Regions from separate parts of the Homo sapiens genome. Here all the other regions are linked to region 2. The links come from fine-mapping of genetic effects on gene expression. A gene starts in region 2. Each other region holds a variant in brackets. All regions are shown on one strand. Distances are between the middles of the regions.

The links. PIP is the estimated chance that this variant, and not a neighbour inherited with it, causes the effect. A credible set is the group of variants that fine-mapping cannot tell apart.
Region 1: its variant is the best candidate, but not a certain one, in a credible set for the expression of EXT1 in monocytes (TOPMed, PIP 0.79).
Region 3: its variant is the best candidate, but not a certain one, in a credible set for the expression of EXT1 in tibial nerve (GTEx, PIP 0.75).

The regions. Positions count from the first base shown.
Region 1 is chr8:117,843,013-117,848,012 of GRCh38, reverse strand. The region is part of intron 1 of EXT1 (exostosin glycosyltransferase 1); the gene reads left to right. Among named protein-coding and RNA genes, the nearest start is that of SNORD168, 75 kb to the left of the region's middle. The variant T/A (reference allele first, on the strand shown) is at 2,448.
Region 2 is chr8:118,108,775-118,114,057 of GRCh38, reverse strand. It overlaps EXT1 (exostosin glycosyltransferase 1), which reads left to right and starts at 2,232. Exons shown (of 11, transcript NM_000127.3): 1 at 2,232-3,973. The coding sequence starts at 3,012. RefSeq lists silencers at 1,810-2,189, 2,290-2,379.
Region 3 is chr8:117,904,930-117,909,929 of GRCh38, reverse strand. The region is part of intron 1 of EXT1 (exostosin glycosyltransferase 1); the gene reads left to right. Among named protein-coding and RNA genes, the nearest start is that of SNORD168, 13 kb to the left of the region's middle. The variant T/C (reference allele first, on the strand shown) is at 2,390.

The DNA of each region.
Region 1 (5,000 bases), 270 kb after region 2:
GGTGGCAGCCCTGACTGTCAAAGTCACAAGGCAGAGGCTAGTGATGCAACAGTGGGAGAGAAAATGGGAAGGTGAGGTTGGTGGCATCAGCTGACATTCCACAAACTGTCATTGGATTCTCAAGATATTTTATAACCACTTAAGTGCAGGGGCCAGACAAAAGGATTAAACACTGACAAGAATGCAGGTCACGGGACAGACTCTGCACAGTGCCTGCCCTGGGGGTGAGAACAGTAGGAATGCCAAACATCCTCCTAATCCGAGGCCTGATCCAGGCTGGCCTTGCTGGAAAGGATATCTTGGATCAAGAAGGGAAGTGGTCAGACATTGGTTCGAGCTCAGTTTTCTGTGCAGAGGGAGGGAGTCATTGCTTTTTGGACTGGTGCAGGGTTTGTCATTGCAGAAGCCATGAGGAGGTTCTACAGCTTTTTATTCTTCAGTTCAGACATGGAGGAAGGCCAGGAGAAGGTTCAGTTTGAACCGCACTGTGCATGCATTTAACTTGATTTACAAATAATGCTATTTGTCAGGGCTGGTGAAACACAAATTTTCTACCCTCATCAGCGTGCAGGGAGAAAATGACATTTTTAACAAGCTGCCAGACCTGTAGAAATAAAAACAGAGAAGGGATTTTAAAATGTACAAAAGGAAGACTAAATAAATAACACGATTTTTCATTCCCCAAGTAAATTGGGCTTGGTGTAAGCATAGGAATGAACTCATTCTTGGAAGAACCCAGCATAAATCAAGAGTTGGGCATGTGTTTGTTAAAGTGGACATTGTTGTAATGAAGGGCTTGCATCTTATCTTTGTTATCTTCTTGCTTCCATAGCCCCTGTACACTTTAATGCAAATTGGTGGACACTGAGCACCTTACATTCATTTAACAACTCTTTTTTTGAGTAGTTACAGTAGGCCGGCCCTTAAGGTAGTTGTTGGGTCAACAGAAAGTAGGACCAAGGTCCTGTGTCCCGGAATCCAGGGGAAGGAAATGAGAAAAATGGGCAACTTAATACAGAGTGAGCAATAGAGAGTTAGCACAGGGTTCCCAAACTCCAGGGATCAGGGAAGCCTTCCTCTAGGCAGCAGGAGTGGAAGTTAAGAAAAAGAAGGAAAGAGGGGCATGTAGGGAAGAAGTGCTCCCTCCACAGCCAGCCTCCTGGGACTCAGATTGTCCTAGGTGGGGAGCTGACACCCTTAGAACAGACACACTGCGCTGCCCACCCCTATCCTGGTCTTCTCGGGCTGCTGTCCATACTTCCTGGCTCCATTCCACTTAACCAGTCCCATTGGCTTAGAGCCTGGCGAAAGGTAGTTAATGGTAAGATAATGACCTCAGGCTTCCCCATCACCATTGGGCCTGTGTGTGACTCTTCTGGACCCATTTATCCATCTGAGTTCACTGTTGCTGCTGGCTCTTTTATTGTTAATCCCCTCTTTTCCCCCTGCACCCCCTCCCTGCCACTGTACTCAGGTAGCCCTTTATTTAGCATTTTCAAAAACGTTTTGTTTTGAACCAGAGAATTTAGGCCCATGTGTCTTGGAATTGCATTTCTCTGAGAAGAGTTTTGGAAGTGGGTATTGCTGTGTATAAAAGCTGGTGCTGGCCAGGCACGATGGCTCACGCCTATAATCCCAACACTTTGGGAGGCCGAGGCAGGTGTATCACTTGAGGCCAGGAGTTCAAGACCAGCCTGACCAACATGATGAAACCCCATCTCTACTAAAAATACAAAAATTAACTGAGCATGGTGGCACACACCTGTAGTCCCACCTACTTGGGAGTCTGAGGCACAAGAATCACTTGAACCCAGGAGGCAGAGGTTTTAGTGAGCTGAGATCATGCCACTGCACTCCAGCCTGAGCAACAGAGCAAGAAGACTCTGCTCAAAGGGGGGAAAAAAGAAAAAGCTGGTGCTGCAAAACCTCTCCTCTTTCAGAAAGCTTCCTGAGATTAATGTCATGGGCACGATGTATTAAATGTCTCTTATTTTCACCTTTGCTGGCACCTCGTTACTCTTTCCTCCTAGGTAGGTTGAGAGATGACAGAGCTGGTCGTGGATCCCATCCTCCTTGCACAAACCGAACAAAACCTGTGACACTTTACTTCATCATCTGTAAACTGGGGTCAGTAGCACCTATTCTCCATGATGGTGGTAAAGATAAGGCACAGTAAAGATTACAGATTGTGCAGCTCAGTGCCCCACCCACAGGAAATGCTTAAAAAGTGGAGGTATTGTTGTTATTATAATTTATATCTGGCCAGGCATGGTGGCTCATGCCTGTCATCTCAATACTTTGGGGACTGGGAAGGATGTGGGAGGATCACTTGAGGCCAGGAGTTCAAGACCAGCCTGGGCAACATAGCAAGACTCGTCTCTATAAAAAATTAAAATTTAAAAAAAGTTTTTAAAAAGTTGTTATTAATAGCTATCTTTTATTTATTT[T/A]TTTTTTTTACTTACTTTTATATATTAGCCATTGAGCTGTTATTTAATGAGCAGGAATTCAGATGGTCATCTTTTACCCCTCTTGAAGTATGAGCTACACCTGGTACATGTTGTGTTCATTAATATACACAGGTAGCAATTACCACTTGGGCTAAGTTTAAGGTTCTGAACTGTCAGTAGACATTTAACCTAAGGATGGGGGGTGGAGTTTAGAGTTGATAAGAGATTATGACCTGGCGTGTTCAGTCAAGATGTTTGAGTCCAAGGACTCTTCTGACTCCCTCATCCCTGTGAAAGACAGGTGTATCTTTCCCCACGTCCCCAGTGGTTGTGAGGCTGTCATGAGATCATGGATATGAGAGTGAATGCCTCCCATAGGGGTTTCATGCCTCAGCCCCAGCCCACAAAATGTTATCTGCCTCCCTTCCCTATGCTGAAATGGATTTTAAGAGGACATGAAAAGGAGACTCTCTTCTGTGGAAAGCCAAGAAGTGTGAAAGGGTGAATATAAATTCCTGGCCCTGGTTTTAGCCACGCACTGCTCTCTGCGGTGGACAGCTTGGGATCAGCAGCCTCAGACTGAGGAGCGTCACAAGGAAATAAATTCTTAATCCTTGGCATGACTGGGGAGGTGGGGAGTGGTGTGGCAGTTCTAACAGCAGGCAATGCTCAAGGCAAAAAACTGTCTTGAGTAAGGAATTGTACCACCTCCAAATAGCGAGTGCCTTCCTGCTTGGGGACGCCAAGCATCCCTGAAGCTGCAGCCAACCTGGTCAGCCAGTCCCAGAGCCTAGCACTGCACATTTGCATAGCTCATTTGTACTATAGCAGCTCATTTGTGTGCACAGAGACTCTGTGTGAGTAGGTGTCATGGAGAAACTGTGGCTCCTTAAGTCCAGAGAATTCTCAAAGACACCAGGGACCTATACTTTTCCATATTCTATGTTTTCAAGTCTCCTAATTGAGATGGAACAGTGGCCAGTTGGACCCATTTTCCAGCTAAAAGATTGGTTCCCACTTATATATGTTTCTCAGTTCAAATCTTTGCCTTGGGCAATTCCGTACGACTGCATGCTGTAAACTTCAGTTTTCTCAAAAATAACTGAAATTTTAGGCCAGGTATGGTGGCTCACTCCTGTAATCCCACCACTTTGAGAGGCTGAGGTAGGAGGATCACTTGAGCCCAGGAGTTCAAGACCAGCCTGGGCAACAAAGTGAGACCCCATCTCTACAAAAAGTTTAAAAATTAGCTTGACATGGTGGTACATGCCTGTAGTCCCACCTACTCAGGAGGCTGAGACAGGAGGATTGCCTGAGCCCAGGAGGTCGGGGCTGCAGTGAACTGTGATCTCACCACTGCACTGCAGCCTGGGTGACAGAGCAAGATCTTGTCTCAAAATAATAATAATAATAATAATAATAATAATAGTAATTGAAATTTTAAACTGTTAAACCTTTAAAGGCCAAGGAAGGGTCTAAGGCAACATGGTTAGTAAATAGATGACAGAGTACCTTCTTAAACTGAGCTCCTGGTAGTGATCTGGGGTGAAGTTTTGAATGGGAGAGAAACAGCCCTTTTAAATTGGCAACGAATAGCCCATGCTTGAAACTAGGTGAACTGCTTAGGACCTGGCTTCATAAGACATGTCAGTTTTAGACACTGCATGTTGTATGGGCTGACCAAGGAGGCAATGTGATGTAATGGAAAGAAAATGGGATTTAGAATGAGAAATCCAGGAGTTGGAACACAGGCTGGTTGGTCCTAGCTGTGACCTGCATTGGAAGGGTTTTTGAGGTCTCCAAACTTAATTGCTTCTCTATGAAATTGGGTTATATGAAGTCCTGAGAACACCATTGGTACCATGTCATTCTTCTGCTCAAGCCCTTCAGTGACACCCCAGTCACCTGCAAGGGATCATCTCTGAGCTCTAGGAGATGTCATAGAAAGCCTTCCTAGTGGCAACCCACCAGTAACAGCAGCCCACACCCCCATACCTTCCCCTCCCCAAACTGGGTGGTTTCTCTCACCTTGGTGCCTTTGTTCCTGCTATGCTATCTCTACCCCCAGGAATTCCCATCACCTCCTCTTACCCCTGTGCCTGGTTGCTTCTTGTACATCCTTTAAGATTTAGCTCAGGGTCTCACTTCCTCCAGGAGGCCTCCCTGCCTACATGTGGCCATTGCTTCTCTTCTCTGTATAACACCCACCTCTACCTCATGTCCAATCCTAGCACTCCTCTCGCTGACTAATCATCATTTGATAACACATGTTGTTTATTCTGGACAGTGAGCTCCCTGAAGAGTGCCTGACACATGGTAGACATTCAACTAATGCTTGGTGAATGAATGAAAAAGGCGCAAGGAGGTGCTCAAAGGATGTTAATTTCATTTCTCTCATCCCCATGCACTTTAGAGAACTACAACAGTCATAAATTATTTTTATTTTCTTTCTTTCTTTTTTTCTTAAGGGATATTATTCAAACTTGTGTATAAGGAAAGATTAATTACTTATGAGGATGGGGACTGGAGGGAGTAGATCAGCTGTAGATGTTA
Region 2 (5,283 bases):
CAGAACACAAAAGAGCAAGGAGGGTAGCTAGCTCCCCCTAAGGTCATGCAAAACAACTGGCAAGATATAGAGGGGCCAGGCGAGGTGGCTCATGCTGTAATCCCAGCACTTTGGGAGGCCAAGGTGGGCAGATCACTTGAGGTCAGGAGTTCGAGACCAGCCTTGCCAATACAGCAAAACCCCATCTCTACCAAAAATAAACAAAAATTAGCCAGGGCTGGTGGTGCACACCTGTAATCCCAGCTACTCCGGAGGCTGAGGGAGGCAAATCACTTGAATCTGGGAGGCAGAGTTTCTAGTGAGCCGAGATCCTGCCACTGCACTCCAGCATATATATATATATATATATATATATATATATAGAGAGAGAGAGAGAGAGAGAGAGAGAGAGAGAGAGAGAGAGAGAGAGAGAGCACCTCCAGTCCCACAGCCCCACTTCACAGGGCTGAGATAATCTGCACCCTGATCAGAAGAGAAGGCCTCCTGCCTTGAACTGTTGTTCTTAGCAACTTGGGCTGGGGGGAGCTTTGGGTCACATGTGGTTTCAATCACTGCCTTTATCTGCATCATTGTCACTGTATTTGGAAGATGACTGAATCCTTATTCCTGTCCCAGGCCTCTCTACATTGTGCAGGGGGTTCAAGTCAAATCTGGAAAAGCTGTCTCATCTTTGGCAGGTCAGAAATAGGGAGAGGCTTCACGAATGTATAGTAATGTCCCACCCATGCCCCTTCCCTGCTTTATTAAAACAAATCTGAAACAACAGAGGTCTGAAACTTTCCACTCTATCATTTCATACTGCCTTGTTATAACCCTGCCCTTCATCCACACCCCGCTGGGGTTTTTGCAGCCTGAGGGAAGCCGGGAAGTGTCTGCTCCTAGCTCTCAGTCACTCCCATAATAAACAATCACTAAACAGCCGGCTGCCCTAGGCAACTGTCTAGCTTGCCCGAGCCCTGAGACTTTAGCTAGGCCAGAGGGTGGGAGGTGTTTTCTGTAAAGCAGTGTTCAGGATCTGAGGCCAGGGAGTTTGACTTTGACCAGAGATACTGTTTGGGAGCCTAGCACATCTTTGTGGACCTGGAGGATCTTTAGCGGGACTGCTCCTCGGTTACCTGAGTTATCTAATGAAGTTCTTCCACTGGGAGTGGCAGGAGCTTGGGCCAAGGAGTGGGAGGTCAGTGAGGGAAGGACCAACTATTTGGCACTAATTGTACATAAGGTAGTTTTCCTGATGCAAGTGTTCCTTCTATAGCTGGGACAGTTGGCAATTCTACCAGTCATATGTCCTTAAGAGATATCTTTAACACCACCACCACCACCACCACCACCAAGAGAATAACATCACTTTGAGGACTGGGGCAAGCTTAAATTAACTGGTTTCCCTGCAGCCATTAGAAAATTTATTTTTTCTCTGTGATTGGATCTCTTGGAAGCTTTCTTCATAATAGACAGAGGGGGCTCAGGCAAGGCGGCCTAAGTAGATAATGAGGATTTAGGATAGCCGTCTTACACTCTTAGCACAGAGGCAGGCATGAAGAATTGCAACAATTCCTCTTGATTGTAATAATTCCTCTTTATTGTTGGGCATTGGGGTGTTTCTTTGGTTTAAAAAAATGTGCTATGTAGAGGAGGAGTAAGGGGAGATTGTTTTAATGCTTAGCAGAAAATTGAAATACTGGGTCTCGGAGAGTGGAAGGAGGGCTGGGAGAGGCAGCTTTCGGATCGGCGGTCGCTTTCTATGAAGTCTTCCTTTCCTCCCTGCTTCCCTCCTTCAAAGCATCTTTCTCTAGGCGTTCCGGCAGGCAGCCCAGGAGGCCAGATTCTCCAGGGCGCCCGGGGCCGCGCGGCACGGGGCCCCTGCCGGTGCCTCCTTCCCCGGCCGCCGCGTTTCCGCAGGCGCCTCTGGTCCCCGGCACGGCGCAGGCCGAGATCCGGGCCTGGGCGCGCCGAGGGGCCGCGGGGCTCGCACCGGGCCGTCCCGCGCTCCACCTGCCCGGCAGCCCGCCGGCAGCTTGCAACCCGGGAGCCCCGGCTCCCTGCGCCCCCTACGCCCCCAACGCCGCGCCGGCGCCTCGGCCCGCGGCCGGGGGTTATGAATGGGCGCAGCGGAAGCACCGCCCCCCCCGGACGTGACGCTCGGCCAATGGCAGCGCGGGCTGCGTGGATGGATGAGGTCAGCGCTGTCGTGTCGGGAATGGAATGTGTAAGTGTAACATTCAGAACCGGGTAACATTCGGCGACCGAACGCGGCGGTCGGCAGCGTTCGCGCGGGGGCCTGCGAAGCGCTGCTCGGGGCCGGCACTGCCCGCGGGGAGGACGCGCCGCCGCCGCCACCCAGCGCCGCCGCCGCCGCCGCCTCCAGCCGGGCCGCCGCGCGTCCCGGGGGCCGGCCCCGCGAGCGCAGGAGTAAACACCGCCGGAGTCTTGGAGCCGCTGCAGAAGGGAATAAAGAGAGATGCAGGGATTTGTGAGGTTACGGCGCCCCAGCTGCAAGATGCACTAGCCGGCTGAACCCGGGATCGGCTGACTTGTTGGAACCGGAGTGCTCTGCACGGAGAGTGGTGGATGAGTTGAAGTTGCCTTCCCGGGGCTCATTTTCCACGCTGCCGAGAGGAATCCGAGAGGCAAGGCAATCACTTCGTCTTGCCATTGATTGGGTATCGGGAGCTTTTTTTTTCTCCCCTCTCTCTTTCTTTTCCTCCGTCTTGTTGCATGCAAGAAAATTACAGTCCGCTGCTCGCCCGCCCTGGGTGCGAGATATTCAGCCCCGCTCTCTCCCGTGCATTGTGCAACCCAAAGATGAAAGACCGAAGGGGAGAAAGTTAAAGAAATCGCCCACATGCGCTGGATCAGTCCACGGCTTGGGGAAAGGCATCCAGAGAAGGTGGGAGCGGAGAGTTTGAAGTCTTTACAGGCGGGAAGATGGCGGACTGGAGCTGAAAGTGTTGATTGGGAAACTTGGGTGATTCTTGTGTTTATTTACAATCCTCTTGACCCAGGCAGGACACATGCAGGCCAAAAAACGCTATTTCATCCTGCTCTCAGCTGGCTCTTGTCTCGCCCTTTTGTTTTATTTCGGAGGCTTGCAGTTTAGGGCATCGAGGAGCCACAGCCGGAGAGAAGAACACAGCGGTAGGAATGGCTTGCACCACCCCAGTCCGGATCATTTCTGGCCCCGCTTCCCGGACGCTCTGCGCCCCTTCGTTCCTTGGGATCAATTGGAAAACGAGGATTCCAGCGTGCACATTTCCCCCCGGCAGAAGCGAGATGCCAACTCCAGCATCTACAAAGGCAAGAAGTGCCGCATGGAGTCCTGCTTCGATTTCACCCTTTGCAAGAAAAACGGCTTCAAAGTCTACGTATACCCACAGCAAAAAGGGGAGAAAATCGCCGAAAGTTACCAAAACATTCTAGCGGCCATCGAGGGCTCCAGGTTCTACACCTCGGACCCCAGCCAGGCGTGCCTCTTTGTCCTGAGTCTGGATACTTTAGACAGAGACCAGTTGTCACCTCAGTATGTGCACAATTTGAGATCCAAAGTGCAGAGTCTCCACTTGTGGAACAATGGTAGGAATCATTTAATTTTTAATTTATATTCCGGCACTTGGCCTGACTACACCGAGGACGTGGGGTTTGACATCGGCCAGGCGATGCTGGCCAAAGCCAGCATCAGTACTGAAAACTTCCGACCCAACTTTGATGTTTCTATTCCCCTCTTTTCTAAGGATCATCCCAGGACAGGAGGGGAGAGGGGGTTTTTGAAGTTCAACACCATCCCTCCTCTCAGGAAGTACATGCTGGTATTCAAGGGGAAGAGGTACCTGACAGGGATAGGATCAGACACCAGGAATGCCTTATATCACGTCCATAACGGGGAGGACGTTGTGCTCCTCACCACCTGCAAGCATGGCAAAGACTGGCAAAAGCACAAGGATTCTCGCTGTGACAGAGACAACACCGAGTATGAGAAGTAAGTGTCTGGGCTGGCGTGTCTTTGGGAGTCAGCCTTGGGCTCTGCCGGCCTTGGTCCAGGTGTGAAGTTGGGGGATGGGGTGAGGGCGGATGAGCCCTCAGTCCTCTTTCCCCTTTGAGCCTGGAACTGAGCAAATCCGGTTCGGGTGTGCAGCTAGAGGCTGGGGACAGAGAGTTGGAGCTCCTCGGGCAAACTGAAAAGCCTGGAGCACCTTCTCGAGCCAAGTAGGTGACAGTATCTCCCTCTTGCTTAGGAAACCTGCAGGGCGGCGTGTCTCCTGTTAAGAGTCGGGGTTAGATCCAAGTTTAGTAACTGCATTTCAGGCATGGGTACTGGAGGGTGTTTCTGAGGGTATCTAGAGACCCGGAGAGGCTGTGATCTACCCAAAGTCCAGAGACCTTCCACCAAGAGTGATGCTTTTGTTTGCTTTTCTCATGAGCGGGGGTACCTACTTTCCCAGGAGTTTTCCCAACTTCACATTTTCTGTAAGCCTGTAATTCATGTTAGCCGTGGAAATGTTTAAATTGTATCGAACTTTGTGTGGCCCTTTCCTCTCTCCCCCGTGGCATTGACTTTTATGAAGGGAGACTGTAAACTTGTTGGGCCTGTGGCTTTGCATGCATGCATGCATGCATGCATTCATTCATTCATTCATTTATTAATTCATTCATTTCTGTACATGTCCTGTCTCTTTCCTAGGATAAACTTTTTTTTTTTTTTTAAATGTGGGCCTCAGTCTCACTGTCTAAACTCCAGTTGCTAATTTAGATTTCCCGTTCCCTTTTTTCTTTATCTATTTGCATGTAAATTGTAGACTGTTACTCTTTGAATGGGTGTGAGATGCCTCCTTACCCTCTGTAGTGAGGCAAGTTTTGTCCAGTTGCTAAGTAACTGAATTGGTTACTTTGTAGACCTTTTCACTCTTCCTTTTTCCTTCCCCGTGACAGTAACTGACACGGGATTTGGAGTCAAAGCTAAATTCCACAAATCTGCTTTATCCTGAGCTTGGTGGACCAGTTTCCTAGTAGGTGGGGTTGCCGCCCAGACTCTCACTTACATCTGGCTGTGAAAGAGTTAGTGAGTTCCTACAGTGCATTTCCACGTTACGCCAGTTAAAAACCAGAGCAGCCTTGTGCTACCCAGGGAAGGAAGGGGAACCTCTCAGCTGAGTACAAGAGGAACTGGCAGAGGTTGGCAGATTTTGCAATTGATTCATGAAATGCAGAATAGGGGAAATGTTTCGCAAACCTGATTGGAACAGGAAGGGGTATGGTGGGAAACTGGCCTTGAAATGAAAGGTTTGATTG
Region 3 (5,000 bases), 200 kb after region 2:
TGGGCATGGCAGTGCACAACAGTAATCCCAGCTACTTGGGAGGCTGAGGCAGGAGAATCGCTTGAACCTGGGAGGCGGAGGTTGCAGTGAGCTGAGATTGCACCATTGTACTCCCATCTGGGTGACAGAGCGAGACTCCATCTAAAAAATAAAAATAAAAAAAAATTAATTTACAACCTTTTCTGCAGCAGGATTTCCAGGAAATGAACTGGGAAATGGTGGCAATGAATGATGACAATAAATGATGGCAAATGCATGTACCATCCAACTATGATTTTGTTTCTTTTCAAACTATTAATAGCACCAGCTTTCAGATCCATGTCGGGCCCTCCTTCTCAAGGAACCCTTGCTCAGCTTAAATCTGCTTGTATTGTAAACTTGAAATAAATATAAAAAACATGGGAACAAAAAAATACATATTTTTTGAATTTATTCATTATTCACACAGTTCACTAAATCAAACTAGCATAATCTCTGCTGGTCCACAAACAGGATCACATACATTTACAGTTTTTAAAAGATGTTGGTTCTCCTTTTATTACATACTATTTGATCTCTTTAAACTCCAGTGTTCTCATCTACAATATGGCCTAATATGATGATAAAGATAACATGCTAGAAGTGAATTTTCTTTCTTGTAAATGAAAAACATAGTTTTAAATTTCCAATTGCAACTGAAGGGCCTGATTTGGCATTTCTCAATGTCTTACTCTTAGTTTAGAATAGGTTGCAATTATTGTTCTTTTTTAGCCATGACACCAAGTTATTCATCTATAGCAGCTTTTCTCTTTTTTTTTTGAGACAGAGTCTCGCTCTGTCGACCAGGCTGGAGTCCAACGGCCCGATCTCGGTTCACTTCAACCTCTGCCTCCTGGGTTCAAGCAATTCTCCTGCCTCAGCCTTCCGAGTAGCTGGGATTACAGGCGCGTACAACCACGCCCAGCTAATTTTTGTATTTTTAGTAGAGATGAGGTTTCGAGGTTTCACCATGTTGCCCAGGCTGGTTTTGAACTCCTGGGCTCAAGCGATCTGCCCTCCTCAGCCTCCCAAAACGGTCGGATTATAGGCGTGAACCACCGCACCCAGCCGCCTGGAATTTTTAAGCCTCAAGTTTGTTCCACTTTGAATGCAAGAAGCCACCTGCTCCTCTTTCTGTCATCAATTTAATTGTTTATAAATTGGGGCTAATAACGATTTCCTTAGGCCACTATATTCTTTACCCAGCTAGTTCCAAGTTGTTTTGTGTGTGTGTGTTTTGTTTTTGTTTTTTGTTGGTTTTTTTTGTTTTTGTTTTTGTTTTGAGATGGTGTCTCGCTCTGTTGCCCGGGCTGGAGTGCAGTGACACGATCTTGGCTCACTGCAACCTCTGCCTCCCGAGTTCAAGTGATTCTCCTGCCTCAGCCTCCTGAGTAGCTGGGACTACAGGCATACACCACCATGCCTAGCTAATTTTTGTATTTTTAGTAGAGGTGGGGTTTCACCATGTTGCCCAGGCTGGTCTTGAACTCCTGACCTCAGGTGATCTTCCTGCCTCAGCCTCCCAAAGTGCTGTGATTACAGGCATGAGACACCATGACCAGCAGTTCTAAGTTTTTATCATTGTCTGACCCTATTGTAAAATGAGTTTTTAAGAGACTGATTTGTAAGAGATACAGAATAGTTTTAAGTTTCATTTATTCTTTGTAAATGCAGTTTTGGGAAATAATTCTTTTGAGGGAACATATATCATCCCCCTTAATCCTGTATTACTGATAGCATTTGTTTGCTTAAAGAGTTTTTTTCCAGCACACAGTATTTATGCTCATTTTTGGATACCAAATGAATGTTACCTAAATTAGTGAAACTTTAATGTTTGGCTAAAATGAGCCAGAAAGCTGTTTCTTTAAACTTTAGATCCTATTTAAGAAATAGAAATGTATCCGATGTTTACGATTGCCCTTTAATTTTACAAGTGATGAAGAGGTAGGTATTTGGCTTTTTCAAAAATATTGCAGAGCCAATGCCATCTTACTGTTCAAGTGTAAAAACCCACATGTGGCAGGTGTATTTTATAGGCTTATAAATACCTGAACTTGCTCACAGGCTGATTACTAGACTTTATAGATCGCTTCAAAAAGTGAGAGTTTCCTAATAGTGGATAAATACTTACCCATTAATTTTTTTTTTAAATGTGAATTTAATCAGGAAGACCTAGAATAGATTCTTACCAAGTTCAATGTGGTATGAGAGTAAATCTCACAGCATAATTTATGAATTCATATATAATATGGCAGAACTGATAGCTATAATAAACAGCAAAGTGAGAGCATATTCCTAATTCAGAGTATCTCATTTTCCATTATTAACAATTAATGGAACTTTCCATTTTTAAGTGTCACTACTGAAAGTG[T/C]TAGCGTGCTCAACAGTAAGCAGGTGAATTCAGAATGTTATTTTAAGGCAATAGGGTTCCCACTGACAGCAAAAGTCAAAGGATGGACAGGAAGCACACTTCCTATTAGTAAGGGGAACCATCATGATGAAACAGATAGAGGCTTTGTCGATTGTTCTCTCCAACCCTTTGTGCAAGGCTCTGATGCTAGGTACCTAGAGCAAATGTTTCACAGTGTTTGAAAGCTCAGAAAAGTAAGGGTGAGGGTGGAGAGAAGTATGTTGTTAGGGAAAATTGCTAAACTCTTAGATGGACTGATTGCATTCGTTATTAAAAGACTAACAATTCATTTTCACCTTTTTATGTTTGGAGAATAATCAGGATATTAGTAGACTTTGCAGAGGCAGCTTTGTTGTTTGATCTGAGAATTGTTTGGGGGATGGAGAAAAGGAAGAAGGGATACCTTGAGGAAAGCTACATCCTTTATAGAGAAGTCAGGGCTGTATGTAAGTGAATGTGCATGGTCAGCCATGGTTTGGGCCATCTTAATTTCGTGGGGTGAGGGAGATATGCTACAGCAAACTGTTCCTTTTTTCTTGTTTGCTTTCTCTGCTTGGAATTCTGATTCTCCAAATGTTGAGTAATAGCCATTCCAAATTAGTCAAGCAATATTGGATGGGGTTTGTGGGGTGGAGTAAGACCTGTATGACAAGACCTCTGCCTTCTGCTCTGAGATCTGACACCTGCTCATGCCACCATCATTCTCCTTAAAATAGGTGTAAACCATACACCATTCTTTCCCAAGGAGACAACTGCTTTCCCTGTAAGACATTTTTAATTCGTGAATTTTTCAAGTGTTCATGATGTACATCATCTTTCGGTTTTGAGTATACTAGTTGTGTGTTAGAAGTTTAAGATACAGGGTATGAATTCTGTGCTTTAAGGAATTTCGTAGGAAACATTGCATGTGTTAAGACAGATTTGGGATACATTTTCTGAGGTCATAAGGTGTTGGAGAGCTGTCATACTGGAGGATATTTATTCCTGGGAATGACTAATAGATTTCAACTGATGGCAACTTAGATTGATTGGTAGTGGCTTCCTGGACTGCTGTGTTAGAAGAATTCTAAGGGTTCCTAAATTGAATGGGAAATAAATCTATTACTTTAGTCTGTCACAGGCATCAGTCTTATTATCATTATTGCTATTCCTGGTTTGTATATTCTCCTTACATGAAACTAGTTGGGTAGAGACTTAACATAAGCTAGTATTTAGATGGGTTCCGAACTTGTGTTCCAAGAATTAAATCAATCAAAATTAAATTTGAGCATTTGCCTTGTGAGAGATGCTGTGAAAGTAACACATGTTCAAAGTTAAAGTGTTAAGTGAAATAAGACCTTGAATGGTGAGGAATGGTCAAACAACTGCTGTAAGAAATACGAGGGATAGAATACCAAGCCAAGAGTCATGCAAATCAGGGATACTAAAGAATGAGGAAGCAGAGTTGGTTTTATGTAAGCAAAAGCAAATAGCAGGAAGTGTAGCCTTTTTAAAGAAATCTCAGTACCACAGCCTGTTGGGAGAGATTATTTGTGATTGGGAGAAATGGGAGCCATCAGCAAGCGGAGGGGCTTGGAAGTGATGGATTTTTTTCATGGTCTTTTTCTTCTGACTCCGTTCGAGATTATAGGTCCCTAGAAGGTAAAAATCTGGTCTTTCATTCCACAAAGTGTTTTTTGTTTTGTTTTTTTGAGACGGAGTCTCGCTCTTCTCCCAGGTTGGACTGCAGTGGCGCGATCTCGGCTCACTGCAAGCTCCGCCTCCCGGGTTCACGCCATTGTCCTGCCTCAGCCTCCCGAGTAGCTGGGACTGCAGGCGCCCGCCACCACGCCCGGCTAATTTTTTGTGTTTTTAGTACAGACGGGCTTTCACCGTGTTAGCCAGGATGATCTCGATCTCCTGACCTCGTGATCCACCCGCCTCGGCCTCCCAAAGTGCTGGGATTACAGGCGTGAGCCACCACGCCTGGCCTGTTTTGGTTTTTTTGAGACAGTCTCGCTCTGTCACCAGGCTGGAGTGCAGTGGTACGATTTCAGGTCACTGCAACCTCCGCCTCCCCCTTCTACAAAGTTTTATCAAGCTGCCCCCCATGTGCCAGGCACCATATTAAAACAACAGGACTTGGTGTGGACTCTGACCTTGATGATTTTTCAGAGCAGAGTAGGAATGGGGAAGGGAATAATACTTGTTGGTACCTACGTGCCTCTTGAAGGAAGTTACTCTTTACTCCATTATACAGAAGAGAAAAACCAAGGCTCAGGAATGTCAGCTTGCCCACGGTCAGCCAACAGAGCTAGATTTGAATCTAGGTCTCTCCCACTTGGAATTCTGGCTTCTTTTCACCAGAGTTCCTATAAGTACACTTTGATCAAGTGGTATATTTATAGGTCTTTTTGATTTAATTTTTTTCTTTGCTCAGAGCTAGAAATGGAATGTTCTTTTAGTTCTTTTTTGAAAGACACATTTAAAGTCAGCTTTTTTAATTGAGGCATAATATATATCCAAAAAAAGTTCACACATCTTAAATGTCCAGCTTGACCAGTTTTCACAAAGTGAGCACACCCTTTGTTAC